2 linked regions of the Homo sapiens genome follow. The protein of the gene in region 1 interacts with the protein of each later gene in a biochemical or structural test. Each region holds a gene or a part of one and is shown on either strand. Other genes may lie near its edges.

The links. The genes of interacting proteins can lie anywhere in the genome.
Region 2: the proteins of JAM2 (region 1) and PATJ interact in a test that uses a peptide from one of them, tested with the Homo sapiens proteins (one large-scale study listed by IntAct).

Annotation. Positions count from the first base shown.
Region 1 is NC_000021.9:25,691,258-25,694,757, forward strand, and holds part of JAM2 (junctional adhesion molecule B isoform 1 precursor), read left to right. Parts: intron 1-921; exon of another isoform or gene 922-1,883; intron 1,884-2,498; coding exon 2,499-2,651; intron 2,652-3,500. UniProt on the Homo sapiens protein: Junctional adhesion protein that mediates heterotypic cell-cell interactions with its cognate receptor JAM3 to regulate different cellular processes. Plays a role in homing and mobilization of hematopoietic stem and progenitor cells within the bone marrow.
Region 2 is NC_000001.11:62,116,480-62,119,979, reverse strand, and holds part of PATJ (inaD-like protein), read right to left. Parts: intron 3,449-3,500; coding exon 3,301-3,448; intron 2,849-3,300; coding exon 2,762-2,848; intron 1-2,761.

The sequences.
Region 1 (3,500 bases):
ACTAGCTGTAAGGTGTTAATAGCACAGCTGTCTTCACTTGAATTTTTTGTAGTTGCCATTTCTGGCATATGCAGAAATGCAAAACTATTATTTTATGCAACACTATTTATTTGAGCCATTGTACCTGCCTAATTTTTACATTTTTTTAAAGAGATGAGATCTGGCCATGTTCCAAGGCTGGCCTCAATCTTCTGTCCTCAAGCAATCTTCCCACTCAGCCTTCCAATTGGCTGGGACTACAGGTGCAAGCCACCACACCGGGTGCAAAACACTATTTTAATTCTGAATATGTTACTATCAAAAAATAAAATAATGTTTTTAACCATCTTTTCTTGTGCCGCAGTGTTACGTGAGCCACCACACATAAAGTTACTGTTCCAGTCAATTAAACCAGACTCCCTGGTTTTCTGAAGACATGAATATTTTTACAAGGGAACTAGAAAGGGAATGAGGCAAGCATTTGAGCTCAATTCTTTAAAATATAACATGGGGCTGGGCACAGTGGCTCATGTCTGTAATCCCAGCACTTTGGGAAGCCAAGGCATGCGGATCACTTGAGGCCAGGAGTTCGAGACCAGCCTGGCCAACATGGTGAAATCCCGTCTCTACTAAAAATACGAAAATTAGCCAGTGTGGTGGTGCATATCTGTAATCCCAGATGCTTGGGAGGCTGAGGCATGAGAATGGCTTGCAGTAAGCCAAGATCACGCCACTGCACTCCAGCCTGGGCAACAGAGCAAGACTGTCTCAAAAAAAAAAAAAAAATTTACATACATAATGTGGAAGGGCCTCAGTGGCCAGGCCTGCTGGCAGCTGCTCCTCACAGGGCCCATGCTAGAGCTGACAGCCTGCCAGGGAGCTGGGCACTCGGAGATGGGGTGGGAGCACTGGGGTCAGCCAGAGATCAAACACGTCAGTGAAGGCCCAGAGCAGCTCGGAAGATAAAATAACAGTCCACTTTATAAACCAACAGTGAAACATTAACAAACAAAGGAAAAGTTGATGACTCTTTGCTAGATGTTGTGGTTGAAAATAATGTAGATATTGATGGGTTTGTTGCATGGCAGGGAACCTTGGCTTGCTCTGTCACCTCATTTTTGAAAAGCACATATTTGAGAAGTTAGACACAATCACTGACAAGGAGATTGACATGCTTGATCTGGCATATGGACTGACAGACAGGTCAGAGTTGTATTGCCAAATCTGTTTGACAAAATCTATGGGCCATATGACTGTCTGAGTACCTGATGGAGTGGCCAGTGCCAGACAATCCACTGATATGGGCAAGACCACCTAAGCAGAATAAATAGCAATGCTTTCACTAAATTTTACCTATTTTATAATTATTTCTTAATATAATTAAATAAAAACATACATGAATGAACTTATTATTATGACCAACTTTACTGTTTTAATTCACCTTGTATAACTACTGAATTTTATAGTTCTGAAAATACGCAATTTTTATATTTGTTACATTAGAAAAAGGTCAGTTAAATATTAGAAAATAATTAATATGACAATACCTTACAAATTTTGCCTTACGTTTGTTTAGCAACTTTTAGCAAAATGTTTTCACATGGCCTTATGTCTGCTTACCTAGAAAGTAAATTTTTTAAAAAAGATATTATTATCCCTGTTTTATGTGAGTGAAGGCAAAGACCTAAAATGGCTTGTTAAGGGCCATCCAACTAATTAGAAAATATGTACACACCTGCATCTTGTTACTATAAGGTATATGTTAGACTGAAACTGGAGAAATTATGACTATCTTACAGCAGCAATTAGATCTGACTGCATATGGACAAAAACATTAATTGCTCAGTGAACTGCTTAACTGACAGTTATTAACCTTACACATAAAGATTTCAAAATTTTGATTCAGTGAGAAGTATAAGGTTGAACATAGGCATTACAACACTGCCAAAAAAGTTAGCCAGTAAACTAAAATTAGATATCAAAATGAAATAAAATATGAGAATATAAAACTATGCTTTTTTGAATTTTTTTTTTTTTTTGAGACTGAGTTTCTCTCTGTCGCCCAGGTTGGAGTGCAGTGACACAATCTCGGCTCACTGCAGCCTCCGCCTCCTGGGTTCAAGCAATTCTCCTGCCTCAGACTCCCCAGTAGCTGGGATTACAGGCGCCCGCCACCACACCCAGCTAATTTTTTGTATTTTTAGTAGAGACAGGGTTTCACCATGTTGGCCAGGCTGGTCTTGAACTCCTGACTTAGTGATCTACCGGCCTCGGCCTCCCAAAGTGCTGGGATTACAGGCGTGAGCCATCATGCCTGGCCTTTTGAACATTTTAAAAACTGTCCTTTCCAAAAGAAAAATTTTAAATAACAGCATCTATATACAACTTTTAGGCTTTAAACTTGAGTTTATTAAAAGGGAAATAAATGCTTTGGTTACTAAATGAACTGATTAGAGGAAGGTATTACACAGAAAGCTACTTGGATTATTACTAACATCAATGTCTTCTTTTTCTAAAAGGTGATTTTAAAAATCGAGCTGAGATGATAGATTTCAATATCCGGATCAAAAATGTGACAAGAAGTGATGCGGGGAAATATCGTTGTGAAGTTAGTGCCCCATCTGAGCAAGGCCAAAACCTGGAAGAGGATACAGTCACTCTGGAAGTATTAGGTGATGTGCATGTATGTGTGTGACTACGTCTCCCACTCCTTCTCCACCACCCAGCCCTGGGGGCAAGCAAGCACTGGTCCATAAACATGCCAGCATCAACTGGGAGCCTCAACCAGTCAAGTTACAGAGACCATAAGCATCACCTTCCTGGCAATCTCCTGGCCATTTCTCCCCCTCTCCTCATTGGCTGCTGAAATTTTAGTAATGCGTTATCACAAAGTATCTCTTTGTTAAAGGTGGAGGCAATTCCTAATGATCCTACAATATACATAGGAGTATCTTTCCTGAGAGTTTATTTTTCAATAGTTTTCAGCATATACACAGTTTCTCCAACCATTTAAAGTAGTATCACATGAGATGGTGGAGAAGCAATAACACACAAAAAAGTAGACTGAAGGTAGGATTAGAAGTCATTTGGTAAATAAAGGAAATTGACATTGATTATATACCTGATATGTTAGCCCTTTTCACATAAGTAATTTTACTTCATCTTCATTAATATGATTTTTATAGATGACCAAATGGAAGTTAAATGATTTAACAAGGCCATACAGCTAGAAAGTGTCTGGACTAAGATTTGAATCCAGATGGGGTTAACTCCAAAACCAGTATGTTTAGTTTCTATAAGAATCATGGATAGATTAGGCACAGGGGCTTATGCCTCTAATCCCACCACTTTGGGAGGTTGAAGTGAGAGGATCCCTTGAGGTCAGGGAGATTGAGACCAGCCTGGGCAGCATAGTGAGTCCCCTATATCGCTCTCTCTAAAAAAAAATAAATAAAAAGCCATTTGTGTTGTTATGCACCTGTAGTCTCAGCTACTTGGGAGGCTGAGGCTGGAGGATTACT
Region 2 (3,500 bases), on another chromosome or scaffold:
TGTTTGCCAAGACCTTTATTGCATTGTATTGTAATTTTTGAGGAGTCTCCCTCTGTCACCCAGGCTGTAGTGCAGTGGTGCAATTTCAGCTCACTGCAACCTCCGCCTCCCAGGTTCAAGTGATTCTGTTGCCTCAGCCTCCTGAGTAGCTGGGGTTACAGGAGCCCACCACTATGCCCAGCTAATTTTTGTATTTTTAGTAGAGACAGGGTTTCACCAGGCTCTTTGGCCAGGCTGGTCTTGAATTCCTGCCCTCAAGTGATCTGCCCGCCTCGAACTCCCAGTGCTGGGATTACAGATGTGAGCCACCACGCCCGGCCCCAAGACGTTTATAAAAGTACACTTTGCCTGACTGTGTTCCCTTAGTTGGCTGAGGAAAAGATCTCGCAAGTATTTTTTCCTCTGTGGAGTAAGGAAATTTCTTCCTGGTTTGGGGGAAAGTCATTTTAAAAAAAGACACTTGGTGGCCCCAAAGCTAGAAGTTATTTCTCTCTTAATGAACTCACTTTCTATGAATTAAGTCAAGAGCTTATTCTCCTTAGCGCTCAAAAGAAGGCATTGATCTCCCTATTTTGTAACTGCTCAGAAGGAAATCTGTGTTCCTACAAGATCCTGATTTTTTAAATGGGTCTGGATGTAAAAATGTTTGGCAATGGAATCTTGTTTTTGCCCACCAGGGTCAGTCTTCAACTCATCATGATGGGAAGACATTTCCTTTTCACAGTCGGCTACCAGCCTTCTTCTAATTAGCCAAATAGGGCAAACTCTTCTATCTCACCCATAATTTTAAGCACAAGGTGATGATAAGATATATTTACTGTTTTTAAAAATTGAATTAAACTCCTACCCTCTGAAATTAAAATTCTGTGTAAGAAGATTAGGGCAAAGTATTTGATACTTTGTCCCAGGTTTCCAAAATATGACAACTCACATTCATATACCAGGTAAGTGGAGACGATAGGTTTTTTTTTTTTTTGATATTTAATGATGTAGCTTCTAAATTTGGTAGTTCTGTCTTTGAGTGTGAACTTAAAAATTATGAAGATGCGGCTGGGCGCGGGGGCTCACACCTGTCATCCAGGCACTTTGGGAGGCCGAGGTGGGTGGATCACCTGAGATCAGGAGTTTGAGACCAGCCTGACCAAGATGTTTTGAAACCCCGTGTCTACTAAAAATACAAAAATTAGCCGGATGTGGTGGCGGGCACCTGTAGTCCCAGCTACTCGAGAGGCTGAGGCAGGAGACTCACTTGAACCCGGGAGGCGAAGATTACAGTGAGCTGAGATCGCGCCATTGCACTCCAACCTGGGCAACAGAGTGGGACTCCGTCTCAAAAATAAATAAATAAATAAATAAGAAGATGCTCACATACATCTCTCAAGAGGGACAGAAATCCATTTCTATCCACTACCTTACCTATCGATCAGTCCAAACTTTTCTTAAATCACACAAACACCTGTTACCTCTTTGTGCCTTTGTGTATGCTATTTTCCCTGTCTGAGATGCCTTTTCCTTCTTTTCCCCAAACTCCATTTGGAGTGAGATTCAATGGAACCTCCTCTGTGTAGCTTCATTCTAATCTTCTGTATACAATAAGGCTTTAATGAAATCATTCAACAAAGATGAGTCTTCCATTAAGGAAGAAGCCTGGCTAGACAACTGTTTCGTTTGTTGATATAAGTCTGGTCAATATCATCACTAACTATTAACTCATGGAATCCTACAGCAGCACCATGTCTTAGATATTTGCTGCCCATTATGTAAGCCAGAAATGAAAAAAAAAAAAAGTGTTTCAAACTTAATATGGTGTTTATTGGGTTTGACTGCTTTGAAGATTCCCTAAGACAAGCCAGCTAGTCTGTAATCCTATCTGAACAATGGTATTTTCCTCACTCATTTTTTAACACCAGTGAGGAACAGGAGGCAGCTAATAGCTTTCCAGAAGTAACTGTGTGCTAACTGTAAGATCAGAGCACCTTCTGAACAAAGGCCTTGGAGAGGCTTCAGAAATAAGGCAACCAGGGAGGGGACCAAAAGTCATGCTTTTAACCTCAAAACTAAGGCGGCCTATCCATAACCCAGAGAGGAGACTTAGGGGTCACATATAAGTTTCTATAGTCTCATTATGTACCACATGGGGCTAACCATACAGTCTACCATCTTGATTTTGTCAGCCATTACAATGAAAAAAATATAGTGAAATATACTTTGCTAAAAAAAAATGGCACTTACATCAGCTTTGCAAATAAATATAAGATGTTTGCTAACCCACAAAATATCACCCACTAAGCCCTCCCTCCCACAGGAAAAACCCCCACACTTGGTTCTCCTAGGAATATGCCATTAATTGCCCTCGGCATGTGTGAGTGGCTAGTCACAAGTTAACTTTATAGCAATATTTAATTGAATGAATAGAACAATGTTGTGCTAATGAGGGTCAAATTGCCACCAGATGTTGCCTTTTTTTTTTTTTAAATAAACACAGCTGTGTACATGCGTGCATAGGCAATATAGAACTAATAGAGAGAAAAGAGCTTCCAAGAAAACATTTGCAAGCAATAAAGGAGAGAAAAATCTAGGGATTAATGAATTTCCATCCCACCTTTCATTTTTATTTCAAACACATGAAAGTTCACTAAACTTGGTGCTGTGAATATGCTGTACATTAGATATTATTTCCAAACAACCATTTATTAAATGGGGAACTTTCTCCCAGTGGGGGCAGAAGAGTGAGTCAGTCTGATGAGAAGCCATCGACAACCTGACTGTTCTGTGATGTCGTCCTTGCGGAGGTCCAGGAACCAGCTCGGAGTCTTCCAATCTCTAGCTGCACAAGTCCCTGTGCACACTTGGAAAGGCAAGAAAAGAACAGAAATGAAAAGTAGTAGCATTTATATTCTGAAATATCTTAACAGAGCCTCTCCCTGCAGCCACAAATTATAAAAGGGTAATGAAAGCAACAGGCATAGCCCTAGAGAGAGGAGGATGAATTCTGTGGCTCCTGGAGGGCCCATCTCATCAAATGCATTTAAAGAACAGTGATGGATACTTAGAATTCTCACAAGTATGAAAAACTTGCTTGTGAAATCCCAAAGCAGGTTCCCTTTCATTCTGTTAGTCAATATAACAGAACTTTCTTTTAAAGCTATTCTGGCTCATTTAAAATAATCAGAGATTAAATTTCTAGTAAAAACTAGAGTTAGTATAAAATCCAACCCATTTTATAATCAAGCTAGACTGGAACAGTTCCCACTGGACTTCAGTTGTGCCAGCTGGGTAAAAAGCAGCCTAGCAACTCACCTTGAGGATGGTGGCCACTGTCTCCTGTGAGGCATTTCTCATGTCCTCCCCATTCACAGATAAGATCTGATCTCCCTGAATCAATCTCCCATCCAGGTCTGCGGCTCCGCCTTTCACGATGTCAGAAATAAACACTCCGCTTCCATTTCTGTTAATACCATACAGCAGTGCAGTATTGGCACAACCTAATATTTCCATGC